Linked DNA regions of Homo sapiens: region 2 is linked to region 1. The links come from fine-mapping of genetic effects on gene expression. A gene starts in region 1. The other region holds a variant in brackets. All regions are shown on one strand. Distances are between the middles of the regions. Region 1 holds the start of STBD1 (starch binding domain 1). Region 2 overlaps CCDC158 (coiled-coil domain containing 158).

Region 1 (9,521 bases):
TTTAATTACATTATGTCTAGATCTTGTTCATTGTTCTAACTACCGCATAGTATTTCATAGGCATCTATCGCATTTTATTTAGTTATTACCCTATGATGAACAGCCAGGGGCTTTGAACTTGCCGTTGGCCCAAGTAACACTGTATGTCCCTTATAGTCTTGTGCACATTTTTCCCTGGGCCTACATGTTGAGGAGTGGGATTGCACAGCCATTGGCTATGTGCATACTTAGCTTCACAACACTCTTCCAGAGTGTTTGTACCTGTTGGCTCTCCCAACAGCAGCACCACACAACTTCTTTCTAATATTTGTCTCTCTGATGGATGTAAAATGGCATATCATTGTTTTAATTTGCATTTTTCTGACTATCAATGAGTTTAAGCATTTTTTGTGTCTAATTTTATTCAGCCAAAAATTATTGTGCCTATTATGTTCCAGTCATTGTTCTGGGCACTGAGGAAAGAGCGTCCCTCGTCCATTTTTATATTGGATCTTGCGTCTTTTTCTTGCCAATTTGTACGAGTTCATTGTAGAGCTAGGTATTAATCTCTTATCAGTTTTAGACAACACAAATATCTTCCCCCAGTTTGGCTCTATCTGGTAACTGTTTATGGCACCCTTCATTGACCAGATAGCATCATTTTAATGAAGTCAAAATGTTTTTGGCCTCCTATGTTAGGCAATGTCACATTGCCAGTTTCCTGGATTTTGTTCTATTCATAGTTTTACCATTTACATTTAGGACTTTATTTCATCTGGAGTTCAGCATTTATGTGGTACAAAGTAGTAATCCAGCTTTATTTTTCTGTAGATAGTGAGCTAGTTGTCTAACACAGATCTCCCTTTTCTAAAGTTTTAATGACTTAGCATGACTGATGTCAGCCTTGAGTCTATTCTGGAACTAAGATGAGTCAGAGGTTTGCAAACAGTTTCAGTTAGAAAATGTCTCTGTGAAACCTGAAACTGGGCAGCTCCAATGTGACTGCTTTGCAGAGAGGTTGTACTTGTGGTTAATGTTATGTGGCTCCCCAGGAGCCAGAGGTCTGACAGCAATGGACAGGTGCTGAGGGTGATAAGTGCATTCCCCTAATGGAGAGAGGGGTTGCAGAGTTATTACAGATCAAGAACAAGTCTGAGAGTCACCACAAACACTGAAACACAACCATAAGGGTTCTCTAGTATAACACATCCAAATTTGCACACTCACTTCTAAAATCTATGCTTTGAAATTTGAACATAGTTTAAGAATCATCAGACTTCAGTGTAGCTAGGGTTTCAGAGCAGGTCCTGGGGATCAGAACACCGGGTTCAAATCCTAGCTCAGTCACTCATTAACTGTATGACCTTGACCAGATTACTTCCCTCCAAGCATTCCATTTATAAGGATGAGATAATCTTTATAAAGCACTTAGCCTGGTGCCTGCATATTTTAGTTATTCAATAAACAAAAACAATAAAAAGAAGGCCTATTAGATGATAGCCTTGACATTCCAGGGAATAGAAAGATGTCCAAGCTGTGACCAGCAAGGGATTTATGATCTAAACTAGGGATGAGACAAACCTCAAAGATACTGATACCATAAGAGAAAACCTGGTGTGATCGAAAGGATCCCATTAGGAATAACAAATCCCAAGGGTTCTACGCTCTCTGTGCCAGCAACAAAAGGACAAGACCAAATCTCTTTCTTATTATACCCCACTGTGGAGAGGCAACAGGACTATGCAGAGACACCTCTTCTACTGGCCATGTCTTCTCCCAGTGGTCATTATCTACTTTCTCTGCTTTTCTTAAAACTCCAGCCAGATTTTCTTTCTCCCACTCAGCTGATAACCTCATTGACTACTTCCTTTGTGGCACAAAATGTCTCTTATTTTCATTCTTTTCTTTTTTTCATGCCCTTCTAATCTCTTTCCTTCATTGAAGGCCAATTCTTCCACTGGCATTCCTGACCCATCTCCCTCTTGTGCCTTATGAAAGTCCAATGAAAAAATATTTCCTCTGCTTCTCATGTCTTCAAGCTCAGTCTCCACTGGCTCTTTCCTGCTCCCAATCGTGCTTAAATCTCTCTTGGTTTATAGGAACTGCCCTGAGTCCTGGTCTATTTCTTTTCTTTTTCTTTTTGGGGGGGGGGGGTTGGTGGAAGGTGGGGGGGGGGGGTCTCCCTGTGTTGCCCAGGTTGGTCTCGAACTCCTGTCCTCAAGAGATCCTCCCACCTCGGCCTCCCAAAGTGCTGGGTATCCTGTTCTATTCTTAAGCAACCCTTCAATTTCTCTCCAACCTATTGCCTCCACGTTTCTCAAGAGAGAGATAACTCAATGCTGGACTTCTTATCCTTTCACAACATTTATATCTTAGCATTCTGAAATCCAACTTCCACCCCCACAAACACTCCAGAGCTACTGATGGCCTCTTATGTGCCAATTGCAACCATTTTCCCTTCAGTTCTCTATCAACTTCAGTTCTGCAAAGCAATGCCTCCATTCCCTCTCCTGGCCACCTTCTTGAACTGCTTTTCTTATCTGATTTTGGTTCTCCTTCTTCTCTGGCTCTTCCTTCCCACAGTCTTTAGTCTCTCTGACTTTGCAAACAGAGTTGCTTTTCATTGTTCTGTCCTCATCCCTCTAAGCCAGGATTGAGCAATCTTTTCTTGCATAAGTTTAAAGGAAAAAATATATAATAAAATAAACTTTAAAATATCCATCTATATCTATTCATACTTTATTAAATAGAATAATATCAATTAGAAAACGGGTTCTACATTATGGCCCATAAAATATAATCTCAAGACAGAATTGCAATATAAATAGCAACATGGAGGCAACTTCCCAATCTTTCTTCTTGCAATTGTGTCAAGGGCTCATCCATCCTTCATTTCTCTTTATAACATTAATCTTTACTATGGATTTAATTACCACATCTCTATGCAGAATTTCCAACATCTCCAGCCTTGATCCTCTTAAACTAAAGAAACCGAGTTCCAACTTCCTGCTCGTGCCTCCAATTTAACACGTCCCAGCAGAACTCATCATCTTCCTCCTTTGTCCGCACAACCGTTCTTGCCTTTTTTGCTCCCTGACAACACTATCTTCCTAGGCACTCACAGTTTTCTATATGGAGGCAAACATGATTGTTTTGCAAGTGTATAGCGATAAGCATGGGTATCATCAGTGCGGCAAGAATGTTTTTAGGATATGTGGCTATGAACCTTTAATATAAACATATGACTATGATTGGAGCATTTTTTAAAAGAGCAGCAACACAGAAATTAATGAGCCAGCACTTAAGTTTGGAAAAGCCAAAAGGAAGGCCAAATAATGTTCTTTAAAAATGTTGCATTAGCTTCTTGGGATTCCCAAAGAAAAAAGTAAATTAAAAAAAATGTTGCATGATCAATATGATACAATGTAAAAATAATTCTGATGGGTTGAGAAAATAATTTTTGGTATTATTTTAAATAAATGAATGGACATTTATGACAGCAATAAATATTAAGAGCCTTTTAGGTATTATAAGTGAATAGTGGGGCTTACATCTGAAGGATTTTACAGATTCTCTGGGATTTTTATCCCTTAGACAGGAGTCCCCAGACCTTGGTCTGAGGCCTGTTAGGAAGCAGGCTGCACAGTAAGGAGGTGAGTGGTTGGCAAGTGAACATTACAGCCTGAGCTGCACCTCCTATCAGATCAGTAGCGGCATTAGACTCTCATAGGAGCACAAACCCTATGTGAACCGCACATGCAAGGGATCTTATATTTTTATCAGATTTTTTGAGACAGTCTCCCTCTGTCACCCAGGCTGGAGTGCAGTGGCATGATCATGGCTCACTGCAGCCTTCACCTCCCAGGCTTAAGTGATCCTCAGCCTCCTGAGTAGCTGGGACTATAGGCGCCACTGCCTTGCCCAGCTCATTTTTGTATTTTTCCATAGAGACAGGGTTTTGCTATGCTGCCCAGGCTGAAAGAATCTTATTTTATACAGTGACATTCATTCTCTTAAAAATATAGCTTTACGGTTACTTTTTATTATACATAAAATGAATTTCAAGGAACGGTAATATCCACATGGGCTAAAAATGCATATGGAATCTACGTAAGAAAAATGCCAATAATGCTCTAGGGTGAAATTACCTGGGGCTTTTAATTCATTCATTCAACCTGTACTTCTAAGCGCTCACTCCGGAGAGGTTACAGGTGCTAAGAATTCAGCAGAGAACAAAGGACAACCATCCCCGCTGTCATTTACACTCTGAAGGGAGGAAAGAGAAATTAAACCACAGACACACAGATTATAGAGTGTATTAGAAATGACGCCCTAAGTGCTAATGAGAACAATGGAGCAGGGGAAGGATATAGGGAGTAGGATTGTAATTAAAACTGGGATTGTCAAGGAAGGGCTGGGCAGGGGAGGGGGTAGTGGGGATGCAGATGACACTTGTGCCAAGACCTAAAGGGGATGAGAGAGAGAGGATGTCTGCAGGAAGGATGACTCTAGGCAAGGAAGCCAGTGTGGTTGAAGGTGGCAAGATGGAGATGAGTGCACAGTGGTCATGGGGAACAGATCCTGTAGGGTCTTAAAGGTTCTTCCGTGTGATCTGGAGCAACTGGAGGGTCTTGAGCAGAGAACTGGGGTGTTTTAACAGGATCACGCTGACTGGTGGTTTGAAAGTGGCCTGTGGGAGCTTGCTGTGTTTTGTTTTGCAGCAATGGGAAGGATGTGGTTGCCACTTCCTGAGATGGGGAAGGTGGGGAGAGTAGTAGGTTTGGGGAGTTAGGTGGGGAGTTCAGGTCTGGATGAGTTGGGTTTGAGATGTCTATTAGACATCCACGAGGAGATGCCCAGTAGGCAGTCTTCGCCCTCACCTCTCCTCTACCTCCTCTCTTATGATTACAGAAGTTGTGGCCTGCATCAAGGCGTGCATCAGCCTTCCAGTAACCCCACTGGCAGAACCTTGCACCCCGTTAAGGGCTACTGTCCATTCGGAGCAAGGGGCACATTAGATAATTTGCCCTACCAGAGAGAGCAATTATAGCAATTACTCCAAGGCAGGTGTTTGGTATCTGTGGCCTTTAGCAGTTGAATGTCGGAGTCCAAGGGAAAGGTGTGAGCTGCAGACATAGACGTGGGGATCATCAGCTTGAAGCTGTTGTGCAAAGTCATCAGATCAGCAGAGGAAAGGATTTACAAAGAAATATATATAACACCGCACAGGGTTGTTGTCTTGTGAGGATTAAATTAAATACACACTTAAAACATCCGGAATACAGACAGTGCTTAATAAAGAGCTGCTGTTTTTATTAACAAACTTATCTGTAGGAGCTCGTCCATGGACAACATCCAGTTCATACAGATGCGTGCGCATTTCGCAGCAGCCATACACGCCCAAAGAGGACGAGACTGGATGTGATTGAGCTGACTGGCATCTTTAGATGGATGGTCCTCAGTCCAGTCCTTCCATTTTACAGGCGAGGAGGCGGAAGCTTGGGGAGGCTAAGCGCGCTGAGCTGGCGGCGGAGCGGAGCTTCCACTAGGGCTCCCAGTTTCCCCGCACCGCGCCCGCCGTCCTCCGGGCCACCCATCCCACCCGAACGCGCCACCGCTCTAGCCCGCGCTCCAGCCCGCGCGTCACCGACGCCCGCGGCCTCTCCCACCTCTAAGTTCCAGGAAGCTCTCGGCCTCTAGCTGACCGCGTTGCTGCTGAGCTTCCCTGGGGAGAAGGCGCCGAGGTGCCCGGTGCGGGCCGAGGCAGGGCTGGGCCTCGCGGGCAGCAGGCGGAAGAAGGAAGGGCGGTGGGGCAGGTCCCGGCTGCGCGGGGCAGTTGTGCGCACTTGGGTTCTTCACGCGGGACACACGTGGAACGCCGACCCCTGCGCCCCTGGCCGCTGGCAACTGGCAAGGCCGGGAACAGAAAGTGTAGGGACAGAAGAGCGCTGGAGTCTTCCCCGGGAGGGAGCCCGGGGCTGCAGCCCAGGGGCGGGGAGCGGGGCGGGGCTGGGAAAGTTGAGTACTGGTCGCTCAGGGCCGGGCTCCGCCGGAGTGCCCGGCGCAGAAACCGTAAAAGGCTGGAGCGGGCGGGGTAGGTGTGGCTCTGTGTGCGTGACCTGAGCCCCGGTCCCAGTCCCTGTAGTCTCCTGCGGCCGCGGCCTCTCAGCCATGGGCGCCGTCTGGTCCGCCCTGCTGGTTGGAGGGGGTCTGGCCGGAGCACTTTTCGTTTGGCTGCTGCGGGGCGGCCCTGGCGACACCGGGAAGGACGGGGATGCGGAGCAGGAGAAAGACGCCCCTCTTGGGGGAGCTGCGATTCCGGGAGGCCATCAGAGTGGCAGCAGCGGACTGAGCCCTGGACCTTCCGGGCAGGAGCTGGTCACCAAACCAGGTATTCTTCCCCCCGTGACTCCAGGGCACATCTGCCAGAGCTTTGAGGTTCATCGAGGAAGGGAGCAAAGAGACAAACCCACCTGGAGCTTTCCTAGGGGCCCATTCCTGCGGACGGGCTCTCCTAAGGGGACTGGGCCATCCCCACGCCCCTCGGTTTCCCAGGCTGGTTGGTACGCGCAGGCAGGTTTCTTGTCTGGTCCTCCAAGGGCCGCGCCCTTGCCGAGTCCCTCAGCGCCCGCGCCTGAGGACTTGGTCCTGCCCCTCCGGCGGGGATGAGCTCCTCCACTTGGCGGCGCTTGGTGCAGTGCGGGCGGCTGCAGTGGCGGCGCCCCTTCCCGGCCTTTGGAAAGGGGGGCTTAGGTTTAGGGGATCCTACAAGCCTCTTCGATCTCTGCCCAAGCAGGGACATTTTCTAAGTCCCAATCCGGGTAGTCTGACATCCTCCCATCGCACAGCCCATGAAGAGCTGGGTTTGGGAACACCCGAACTGCGGGCGCCTCCTGCTATCTGGATGCTTCTTTAGGAAGGCAAAGTTCAGGTTGGACTCTGGCCATGAAGGCTGTGGCTGAGGCCCTGGGGATGTGCCTTGGTCACCCCTTTCAGCACTGTCGGCAGTCCCCTCCACGCTGCCCCAGAATAGGGCCGGATAGTCATCCCTAGGAAGGGACTACTTAAATAGGGGACCCAACCCTGATGAGTAGAATTGACATCTGGGTTTAAATTTCTGTATTTTAGGGACCGTTTGCTAAGCAGAGAGCGAACACTGGCAGAAAAGCTTACCGTCCAGTGCCCTCCCTTGGCAAGCTGCCCATGCCTGGACAGAAGCCTAATGGTGAAAATGACATCTGTGAACTTTATTTTTAGCCCAGTGGTGTTCATGTGCAGCCATATGAAAATCTGCCCGTGTGCCTTTACTGTGATTGGTCTGGGATGCCTAGACAGTTCACTTATCTTTTTTCTGAAGACCAATCTCATGCTTTAGGTTGAAAAGTTGGGAATCCAGAATAATATTTGTTCATTCTCACTTCCAACTCCCACCATCACCGAGGCGGGCAAATCACAAGGTCAGGAGTTCGAGACCAGCCTGGCCAATATGGTGAAACCCTGTCTCTACTAAAAGTACAAAAATTAGCTGGGCGTGGTAGTAGGCGCCGGTAGTCCCAGCTACTTGGGAGGCTAAAGCAGGAGAATCGCTTGAACCCGGGAGACAGAGGTTGCAGTGAACCGAAATCGTACCACTGCACTCACTCCAGCCTGGGTGACAGAGCGAGACTCCATCTCAAAAAAAAAAAAAAAAAAGGGATAAAATGAAACAAGACTGTTGTCCCCATACCACCACCACCCCCACACCACATAAAACCACAGCTGTGCTGATTGTATGTATGATTTGGAGATTTCAATCTTGTAGGGAGCTATTTGGACTACCAATGGCATGGCCAAGAAGGAAACTGCATTTTTAGAGGACTTGGATTTTGTATTTTTAAGAACGTTTTTTAAAAAATGCTTACAATGGAAGGGGATACAAAACACCGTTTTGTTGGGGAGGTTCCTAACGCATATGGGATTGGCAAGGAGAAACCAGCCCCTTCCCCCAGTTCTCCCTCCACTCCTGCCCAGGGAAGCACTACTGTTCTCCGTATCTCCCCAAGGTGACAGCTCCTGCTGATCTGCCCGCAGGTCTGCGAGAGCCAATCCCTGCCCTGCATGCCTCCCCTGGGAGAACAAGTGTACTCTTCTGGTTTGTAACGTAGCCACGCAGCCCTTTGCCCCACAGCCTGGACAACATTCTTTGATGATAGGAGCCAAGCAACTTAACTTGGCTGCATGCCAGTATGGCCTGGACTGTGGAGACTGGGGACCATGGGGGGGTTACACGTCTGCCTCTACAGCTTACCACTTCATTTACACTTGTGCTGGCACACTGATACTCCTGGATGTCCCTTTTGTTGTCAGATATACATGTGTATTCTTAGAGCACAGTGTTGGGAGCATACTGGTTAATTAAGTAGTACTTGATTTTAATAGAGGGGGACTTTGTGAATTGCAGATTGATTAGTAGTAAAGCTTTCAGTAACTAAATCTATTTTCTCAGCCTGACTTTTTTCTTAAATGAACTACCTGACTCTATTACATTTTTCCTTTGATTTCTTAGAGCATCTTCAAGAAAGCAATGGACATTTGATTTCTAAGACCAAAGACCTTGGTAAACTGCAAGCAGCATCATGGAGATTGCAGAATCCTTCCAGGGAAGTCTGTGACAATTCAAGAGAACATGTTCCTTCTGGACAGTTTCCAGACACAGAAGCTCCAGCTACCTCTGAGACCAGTAACTCTAGGAGTTACTCTGAAGTTTCAAGAAATGAAAGCCTTGAATCTCCTATGGGAGAATGGGGATTCCAAAAAGGACAAGAGATATCTGCTAAAGCAGCTACATGTTTTGCAGAGAAGTTGCCTTCTAGCAACCTGCTCAAGAACAGAGCTAAAGAAGAAATGAGCCTCTCTGATTTGAACAGTCAGGACCGGGTTGACCACGAGGAGTGGGAAATGGTGCCTAGGCACTCATCTTGGGGGGATGTTGGTGTGGGTGGCAGTCTTAAGGCTCCAGTGTTAAACCTAAACCAGGGAATGGACAATGGAAGAAGCACTTTGGTGGAAGCAAGAGGTCAGCAAGTGCATGGGAAAATGGAAAGGGTAGCAGTGATGCCTGCAGGGTCTCAGCAAGTTAGTGTCAGGTTCCAGGTCCATTATGTCACAAGCACTGATGTGCAATTCATTGCAGTAACTGGAGACCATGAGTGTCTTGGGAGATGGAACACTTACATCCCACTCCACTATAACAAGGATGGGTTCTGGTCTCATTCCATTTTCCTGCCTGCAGATACAGTGGTGGAGTGGAAGTTTGTGTTGGTAGAGAATGGGGGAGTTACCCGCTGGGAAGAATGCAGCAATAGATTCCTAGAAACTGGCCATGAGGATAAAGTGGTTCACGCATGGTGGGGGATTCACTGATTCAGTTTGCAAAGTAATGGAGAAGCTGTAGAACAATGTGGAAGAGGCTGAGGTTGTGGAACACACTGAATAAAATAAAGGCAGTGTGACTCCAAATTCAGCCATCTGAATTGTTTAAATTTGCTAGTGGATTTTGTCTA
Region 2 (9,525 bases), 100 kb after region 1:
TTGAGTGTTGTAGGTTCCCTTTCTAGTTCTCTTCCACATAGGTTTGCAATGGGAAGAGCTCGCAGAAGAGCTGGAGGCAGCAGAAGAGGGGAAGCCAAGGTCATGGTCCTCTCACTGTCTCAGATGAGGATCTGGTAGTTGGTGGTGGCTTCAGCTCCTTCCAGGCAGCCCTCTCCGTGGTTCTACCTCTAGCTTCCATGCCCTTGCAACAGCTGCTTTTCTCATTGTCCTTCTAGCCAAAGGCATGGTTGGTAGCAGCTTCTTGCAGTTGGTAATTTCTGTGTTGTTTCATCCCTTTAGGCTTTGCAGCTCTTTCAACACCTATGTAACCATTCCTTGTATTAAATTCCAACTATTTATTCCATCTGTGTCTGTTTTCCTGACATAGGAATCACCTTTGATTGAAATAATTTGGATCAGAGGTGATGGGGGCCTGAACCAGAACACCAGTAATGGAAATGGAGAGGGAAAAAATGGATTCAAGAGACATTTCAAAGGTAAAATCAGCAGGGCCTCAGTACCTGACTGGATGTAGCAGCAGGTGAGGAAAAAGAATGAAATGATACAAAATTCTGACTTAGGGCAGACCAAGGAAGGCAGGCTAGGAAGACACAGGAGGAAGAGAAGGCATTAGGGAGGCATGGGGCATGTTGAGGCTGAAGTACTTCAATGTAGAAACATTTTTAAAACAAAAAATTCCTTAAAAGACAAAGGAATCTCTTCTTCAAAAAGTAGAATTATAAACAATATGGTAGACATTCATGATCATGGTCTGTAACCCACATGGTTAAAAATAAAACATACTAGAAACAGCAGCTTGAATGAATATCATGGTTAATTCTATTTTTTCCCCATTTTGTTTTATAAACAGCACATACCTCCATTAGATGTGACACCACTACTTGATAAAAGATCTTCATTATTTGATTCCCAAGCTTTTGATTCCATATTAAATATTGCTACTTCTTATTAGAGATCTTGAAGTATGAATGGTTCCCTCTTTGGTTCTTTTGGTTCCTGTCTATGAAAGACAGAGATTCAATCTTTATTAACAAGGTACTATGTGAAAAAAGTTCATAGAAGAACAGGAACTGACTTTTTAACATTGAAATTTAGTAATAATTTCTTCTCCAGAAAAATAATTATTTATACAGAAATACATTATATTACATAAAATTAATAAGTGAATACAATCTTATGGTGAAAATTATTGATTTTAATAGCCAAGTACATTATTAAAGACAACCTGAAAATAAGAAACTAATTATTGTAGAGGTTTCTCATAAGGTTACACCATCAAATAATGGAAGAAAATATCTCCTTAGCAAAAACCACAAATCATCAAAATGGAAGTCACTAATAAAAGTTGAAGAACTTCTCTGATGTCAAATAGTGCTCACAATTTTCATTTAAGCTAAGAGGAGAATTCTAAATGTGGAGAACAATGGTGGTGGTCTGATTTCAAATCTTCCTCACATCTTCCCAAATAACCATAAAATCAACCAGGCACTCCACACCCCTAGCATCACTGGAAGACAGAGAGTACCACAACCTTCAAATAATCTGCAAGTACAGGGAAATCTTTTTCCAAAACAATTCCCGCAGCCCACCTACCAACACTACAAGCCTAGGGGTACAGAAAATGGGAGGGAAGAGGTAAGCAGAAGACAGAAAAAGTACAGATAAATTCATCCCCAGAGGTGAAAAAGTAAAGGCCAAAATATTAAGCACAGGTTGGAACTTGATAGTCCATAGCCCTGACAATGGGGTAAGGGTTTGAAGAAGTAGCGGCCTCAGAGAAGCAGGGTTTCTTGGGGTGAATGAGATACAGAGAGAAAAAATGGTCTCCCCTAGGGACATGGCAGTCAAGGGAAAGAAGGAAATGAGAGAGGAACACCAAGGAACCAGCAGAAGCAAAACACAAGCTAGATATACCACCCTTCTTCCATCCTTCCCACCCAACACCACTACCCATAAAGAAAGTGCATGGCAGAAGGCAGTCTCAAAGTAGGACCCTTGTCCACAAAATGAATAGGAATAGATAAAAGCAGACTATATCTACTGCAAAATGTCAGAAAACATGAATACAATCTTTTCTGCTGATGAAAAGTCTCTCCCACAAACAACAAACATGAAGCCAAAGAAAACTGAAACATAATACTCCAAACTGAACCCAGTAGGCTCAAACAAGAATTTAGGGTATGAAAAATCACCCCTGAATTAGAAATGTAAAGCCAAAGAATAAAAATGGACAAGAAACAAAACAAGCAAACAAACAAACAAACAGGAAGAGATGAAATGAGAGTTGATTAAAGTTAGGAAAGACAGAGAAATAAAAAACAAAACTATATCAGAAATAAAGACTGAATCACAAAGTACACAAGCGATGACAGGTTGTAATAAAAATTTAATAAAGGCACTGAAGAAAATCAGGAAAGCCACCATGAGAATAAAAAATAAAATAAAGAAGTAAAAAGGGTGAGAGCTGGGTGTGGTGGCTCATGCCTGTAATCCCAGCACTTAGAGATGCAGAAGCAGGAGGATAGCTTGAACCCCGGAGTTCAAGAACTGCCTGGGCAACAGGGCAAGACCCCATTCTCCACAAAAAGGAAGAAAAGAAGACAAAAAAAAGGAGTGAGAGAGGACTGAAATTGAAGACAGGTAAATGAGGTTGAATATAATACAACTGGGTTTCCTAAAGGAAAAACATGAAACAGAACTACTATTTAAAACTATAATCCAAGAAAATTTTCTAGAAATAAAGACCCGAATCTACACATTTTCCATATCAGGGAAAAGTGATCAAGAATGATAAACTCTGAGACATACACTAGTAATACAATATTAAGACTTTAAAGATAATGAAAAAATCCTCAGTGTGTCCAGGCAAAAAAGATGAAATAATTTACAAAGGCAAGAAGATTAGACTGGCACCAGGTTATTAAAAAACAATACACACAGTAAGGCAAGAGTGTAGTAGTACTTTCAAGAAGGGAAAGAAAGGACAAACCAAGGATATTACAGCCAGCCAAGATGTCCCTCAAAAGGTTTGAAGCCACAAAAAAGCAGTTTTGACTGTACCGGGACACTGTGCCGTGTGCCTCTGCTGAGGATTCTACTAGAGAAGATGAGCCTCATTCACCCAGAAGACCACTGTAAAATGTGGCAGTGTCTACAACTGGTGAAGATCTTCAAGGTTTTGTGTAGGTTCTAAATTTTTAAAAGTAAATTTGGAAAAAAAGGATAAAGACAAACATTTAAAAAACAAGACCGGGAAAACTGCAAGGGGACTGATGGTGAATATTTAAATACTCAATTATAGAGTTGAGAAAAACAAAGGTGAGGTAATGGCACTGAATAGCGATATAAATATTATGTGCATGACAAAGGAGAATAAATGTAACTAAAAACGGAAGGAAGAGGGAGAAAAGTGGAAAGTAAAAGACCATTGACTTAAAATGGAATAGACAGCAGTCAAAGGACACCACTTAAAACTGAGAAAAAGTAAAAGGTCAAGTAAGAAAAAGCAGGTTTAAAAGTGCACTATAAAAAGCATAAGTACAAAAGTAACCACTAGAGTAAAAATACAAACCTTCTTAAATGACAAAGAATTTTAAATGGAAACATAAAGAAGAAACACCAAATAAAGAAACTCTAGCAAATATAACACATTCAGTAATTACACCCACAAGATAATAGAATGATGTGAAAAAAATACCACAGAATTTAGACCAAACAGTCATGTTGATTAATGTAAGAGGACTTAACTTGCCTATTGGAAGAAAAGGATTTTCAAATTGACTTTAAAAAAAACAACCCTGCTATGTACAAAAAAGTATGCCTAAAAACACACGCAGAGATTCAAAAAGACTAAAAATAAAAGGATGAACAAAAATTGCCAGGCAAATGAAAACAACAAGAAAGCACGGGTTAAAATCCTAATACCAGACTAAGTTGTCTTCAAGCCAGAGAGCATTAACTAAAACAAATTGCAGTGCACTTGAAGTTAAAAGCCACATTGCACAATAAAGATATGTACCATATAACACAGCAATCACTTGGATAAAGCATAAATCCACAGAAGATACGGTAAGAACTGCAAACGCAGTAATAATGGGAGGCTTTAACGGACAATTAGTATGAGACAGGCCAAGTGGACAAAAAATAAGTAGAGATATAAAAGATTTAGAAGAACTAATCACTAAGGTAGACCTTTTGGCTATATATTAAACACTATACTTTGATAACAGACAATATACTTTCCTCTCCAAGGGCACATGAAACATTCACAAAAA[TC/T]AGTCATATTCTAGGGCACAAATCAGTAGGTTCCATAAAGTAGGTTTCCATAAAGTAGAAATGTTACAAACAACACCTTCTGGTCACAGTATAATAAAGCTAAAAATTAAAATCAAAATCTCCAAATTAAAAAGGTCTTTCTACCTGGAAATTAAAAGGCCTTCTATTAAACAACTCTTGTGTGATAAGGGAAACACAAGCTGAAATTAAATAATTTCTGAAAAATAATAATGAAAATAGTACATATCAATCTGTGACATACATTAAAATAGTAAAAAGATGAAAATTCCCAGCCCTGGACACCTACATCAATAAAAATGAAATAATAAAAGTAAATTCATTAAGTGTCTAACACAAAAACATAGAAAAATGGGTGAACTAAAAGAAAGCACAAGTAGGAAATAATAAATGCAAAAGCAGAAATTAAGATAGAAAAAAGAAAAACAATGAGTCAAATTCATGAATCAAAATCTTCATTCTCTAAAAAACAAAACAAAATAGATGTGGGTGAGGACCACTAAAGTGATGGGAAGAGGAAGATCATGTAACACGCTGCTTATCATTTTTACATTAATTCATGATTGTAAGCATAAAGTCTCTAAAAATTTAAAAAAACCCTGAGCTTAACAGTTTTTATTAAACGGAATTCATTTTTATTTCACTCACATTTTCTTCCTTTTGATTACTGAGATGCCACCTGTCAAAACTACAATTAACGATAGAACATATCTACCTTAATATGCTTCGTGCTATCGTTTTTTAGGAAGTAAGTAGTAGGTAGGGAGATATTCCATAAAGAATTATAACAAATAGAATGTTAGTCAAGATTGCTAGGCAATTTAAATGTTCTAAATAGAAGAGACTGCTACTTGAGGAAAAAAAAACCTTGCCTATTGAAAGAAAAGGATTTTCAAATTGGCTTATAAAAAACGACTCTATGCTGTGTACAAGAAGGATGCCTTCTCATTTAAACGAGTTTCATTGTGAATGTTTGTTGTATAACTTTACTGATACACTAACATGATACATTTTGGGATTCTTCAGGATAATGAATGACACTAAGAAAGTTCAAATTGCTGAGTAATGTTATCATGAATTAGAGATCAATCAGAAGCATAAAGGAATGAGTAGGACAGATATAGAACCACAACCAAATACTGGCAAATCATATAGTAATTCACTATCAAAGACTTTAGTATTAAGCAGGAAACAGAATCTAAGATCAAGGTAAGCAGAATTGAAAATAGGAGTTAGAGAGTAGAGAAAAGAAGAAAGAGGAAGGTTTGGCTTTAGAATATTCTGATGTGGAAACCACACTTGTCTACTTCGACGTAAGATGATGAATGCTTGCGTTATTCATCATAACTCACTATGAATGCTTGTGTTATTCATAACAGGCTGTTGGAAAGCAGCAGTCCTTCAAAGGGGAATTTTTTTCTTAGAAAATTAGTAGTTTACAGAAGACAGCATAGGTTTATTCACTTAAACAAGAGTTGTTTTTTTAAATTTTTAATTAAAAAATTTTATTATTATTATTTTTTACTGCTCCTTGTGCAGCAGGGCTACCCCATAAGCAGTGTGCCCAGAGTAGTCAGGAGTTTCACTTCTTTATATACATATATGTATATATATATATATTTTTTTATTATACTTTAAGTTCTAGGGTACATGTGCACAACGTGCAGGTTTGTTACATATGTACACATGTGCTATGTTGGTGAGCTGCACCCATTAACTTGTCATTTACATTAGGTATATCTCCTAATGCTATCCCTCCCCGCTCCCCCCACCCCACAACAGGCCCTGGTGTGTGATGTTCCCCTTCCTGTGTTCATGTGTTCTCATTGTTCAATTCCCACCTATGAGTGAGAACATGCGGTGTTTGGTTTTTTGTCCTTGTGATAGTTTGCTGAGAATGATGGTTTCCAGCTTCATCCACGTCCCTACAAAGGGCATGAACTCATCATTTTTTATGGCTGCACAGTATTCCATGGCGTATATGTGCCACATTTTCTTAATCCAGTCTATCATTGTTGGACATTTGGGTTGGTTCCAAGTCTTTGCTATTGTGAATAGTGCCGCAATAAAAACACGTGTTCATGTGTCTTTATAGCCGCATGATTTATAATCCTTTGCATATATACCCAGTAATGGGATGGCTGGGTCAAATGGTATTTCTAGATCTAGATCTCTGAGGAATTGCCACATTGTCTTCCACAATGGCTGAACTAGTTTACAGTCCCACCAACAGTGTAAAAGTGTTCCTATTTCTCCACATCCTCTCCAGCACCTGTTGTTTCCTGACTTTTTAATGATCGCCATTCTAACTGGTGTGAGATGGTATCTCATTGTGGTTTTGATTTGCATTTCTGACGGCCAGTGATGATGAGCATTTTTTCACGTGTCTTTTGGCTGCATAAATGTCTTCTTTTGAGAAGTGTCTGTTCATATCCTTTGCCCACTTTTTGATGGGGTTTCAACAAGAATTTTAAAACAACTGTTTATTTGTAAAGAGGATGCTTAGTATCTCTGTTGCCAATGCTGGTAGTTATTTTGTGTGTGTATTTTAGAGTAATGAAAATCTGCATTTAAATAATATTTGTAATTCATTTTCACTATTTTAGACTGACCATATATCCTGAATTTGGTCAAGTCATCAGTGTTTCTCTACTTTTGTGACACTATAGGAATTGAAATATTTTTCCTATTTTCAGGCATAAAGCTTATGAAATGATTAAAGATTTCTAGAAAAAGCAAGGTTTTTTGCTTCAATAAATCATAAAATTGTTAAAAAAAAAACTCTGCACTTGGTTGAATTGGGGATCATAACATGAACTTACATGTGTTTATTTTAAATCTCTGAGTAAAATACAGAGGTGAGATCTTGGCCTCTTCTGACATGCCGAAGGTCTATTATGAACAGTTCTGCCTGATTTAAAATTATGAACAGGTTCACATTAAAAGGAGCCTTACATTTTTAAAAAGTAGTATCTAGGCCGGGAGCAGTGGCTTACACCTGTAATCCCAGCACTGTGGGAGGCTGAGGCAGGCGGATCATGCGGTCAGGAGATAGAGACCATCCTGGCTAACATGGTGAAACCTCGTCTCTACTAAAAATACAAAAAATTAGCCAGGTGTGGTGGCGGGCGCCTGTATTCCCAGCTATTCGGGAGGCTGAGGCAGGAGAATGGCGTGAACCCGGGAGGTGGAGCTTGCAGTGAGCGGAGATCACGCCACTGCACTCCAGCCTGGGTGACAGAGCGAGACTGTCTCAAAAAATAAATAAATAAAAATAAAAATAAAAAGTAATATCTGTGTATCTATTCTACTCTAGTTATTTGATTGGAATGTTGCCAAAAAAAAAAAGGTCTAAGAAACCACAGACCACAAAGAGGGAACTTTTGGAGGAAAATTCCCTAAAGCCTTAGGCTTTGTTATATAGCTGAGATAAAGCGTTTAAAAGTACCTCCTGGGTTCTGACTCCTGCTCCTTGGAGTCGAAAGGCCCTGGTGGATGTGCACTTATACTTTTCCTAGTATGAATAATCCTCACCTTGATTTCTTTTTGTATGGCTACTACTTAAGGTGGACCTCTCCTGTGACTATCATAGAATGAATAACTGATTTAGAATCCCTTTTTTTTGTTTTGAGACAGAGTCTTGCTCTGTCGTCCAGGCTGGAGTGCAGTGGCACAATCTTGGCTCACTGCAACCTCCACCTCCCATGTTCAAGCAATCCTCCCACCTCAGCCTCCTGAGTAGCTGGGATTACAGGCATGTGGCACCTTGCCCAACTAATTTTTGTATTTTTAGTAGAGATGGGGTTTCACCATGTTGGCCAGGCTGGTCTTGAACTCCTGGCCTCAAGTGATCCACCCACCTCAGCCTCCCAAAGTGCTGGGATTACAGGCGTGAACCACCAGGCCTGGCCCAAGTTCTATTTTGATTGCGTACAGATGACTTATGATGTATGTTCTATTTAGATTCCTGGATTCTTCAACTGACTCAAGCTCCTAGGTTGATGAACCACCCTACCTTCCACAGAAACCTGAGACTGGGGATCTTACAGAACTGATCTACATTCTTCTAGAACCAGTCTGCAGGTATGTTTTCCTTGGGAAATTCTGAGGTACCTCGGGACTGATTCAAAGAAACATACTGGGCTGGTACAATCTCAGAAACACAATAAGGAGAACCATTCATGTTGAACAGTATTGTACTACCTGAATTGCTGTTAGCTGCTTATTAACTTCACATGCTCTCAGTGTCTGTTTTCTCAATCACACTCTTTCAAGTCTCTGGATGTTGTAATCCTAGCTCTGTGATCTACTAGCTGTGCCACCTTGAGAACAATATTTAACCTCTCTATGACTATACGAGGGAGATAAAAAGTATACAGCTTAAAAGGTAAAAGAGTGTATACCTCAAAAGAATAAGAGTTAACTGAGATAACTCACGTGCAGGCCTTCCTACATAGTAACTGCGGCCTTCCTACATAGTAACTGCCTCAACACATACAAGGTACCAGATAATTGGACAGCAATAACATGAATAACAATACTATCTGGCAGGGCACAGTGGCTCACGCCTGTAATCTCAACACTTTGGGAAGCAAAGGTGGGCGGATCACTTGAGCCCAGGATTTAGAGACCAGCCTGGTCAACAGAGTGAGACTCTGTCTTTACAAAAAATGAAAAAATTAGCCGGGCATGGTGGTACTTGCCTGTAGTCCCAGCTACGTGGAAGGGTGAGGTGGGAGGATCCCTTGAGCCCAAGAGTTCAAGGCTGTAATCAGCCATGATCACCACTGCACTCCAGCCTGGGTGACAGAGCAAGACTCCATCTCAAAAAAACAAAAACCAAAAAAAGCACCCCAAAATCCCAATACTATCTTTATAACTTAAGCAGTGTATGTAAACTAACTCATTTTCCCATAATAAAGAGCAATATTGAGTTTCATATAGGCCCACTAACAAAAGAAAGTGGGTTTAATCTGCATTGACTAAACACAGGGACTATTATAATGTAATACGGAATTAAGCTACTTACGATCGCATTTCACCCATACATAATACCATCTAGCAGGGAGGCAATATGGAAGATGCACAGAACTTAGAATCAGGAAACTTAATTCTGTCATTGGTTAACTGTGAGAGCATGGGCAGACCTTTTCATATCTCTGAGTCTCAATTTCCATCCTTACTAAATGAAATTACAGTTGTGTTTTTCAA

Evidence for each region. PIP is the estimated chance that this variant, and not a neighbour inherited with it, causes the effect.
Region 2: its variant is the best candidate, but not a certain one, in a credible set for the expression of STBD1 in whole blood (TOPMed, PIP 0.85).

Annotation. Positions count from the first base shown.
Region 1 is chr4:76,300,620-76,310,140 of GRCh38, forward strand. STBD1 (starch binding domain 1) reads left to right here and starts at 6,114. Exons shown (of 2, transcript NM_003943.5): 1 at 6,114-6,370; 2 at 8,525-9,521. The coding sequence starts at 6,151. The coding sequence ends at 9,381. FAM47E-STBD1 (FAM47E-STBD1 readthrough) reads left to right here. Exons shown (of 7, transcript NM_001242939.2): 7 at 8,525-9,521. The coding sequence ends at 8,554. RefSeq lists an enhancer at 791-935 and a cis regulatory region at 858-868.
Region 2 is chr4:76,402,260-76,411,784 of GRCh38, forward strand. CCDC158 (coiled-coil domain containing 158) reads right to left here. Exons shown (of 25, transcript NM_001394954.1): 3 at 879-1,021. The coding sequence starts at 948. Among named protein-coding and RNA genes, the nearest start is that of CCDC158, 14 kb to the right of the region's middle. The variant TC/T (reference allele first, on the strand shown) is at 4,296.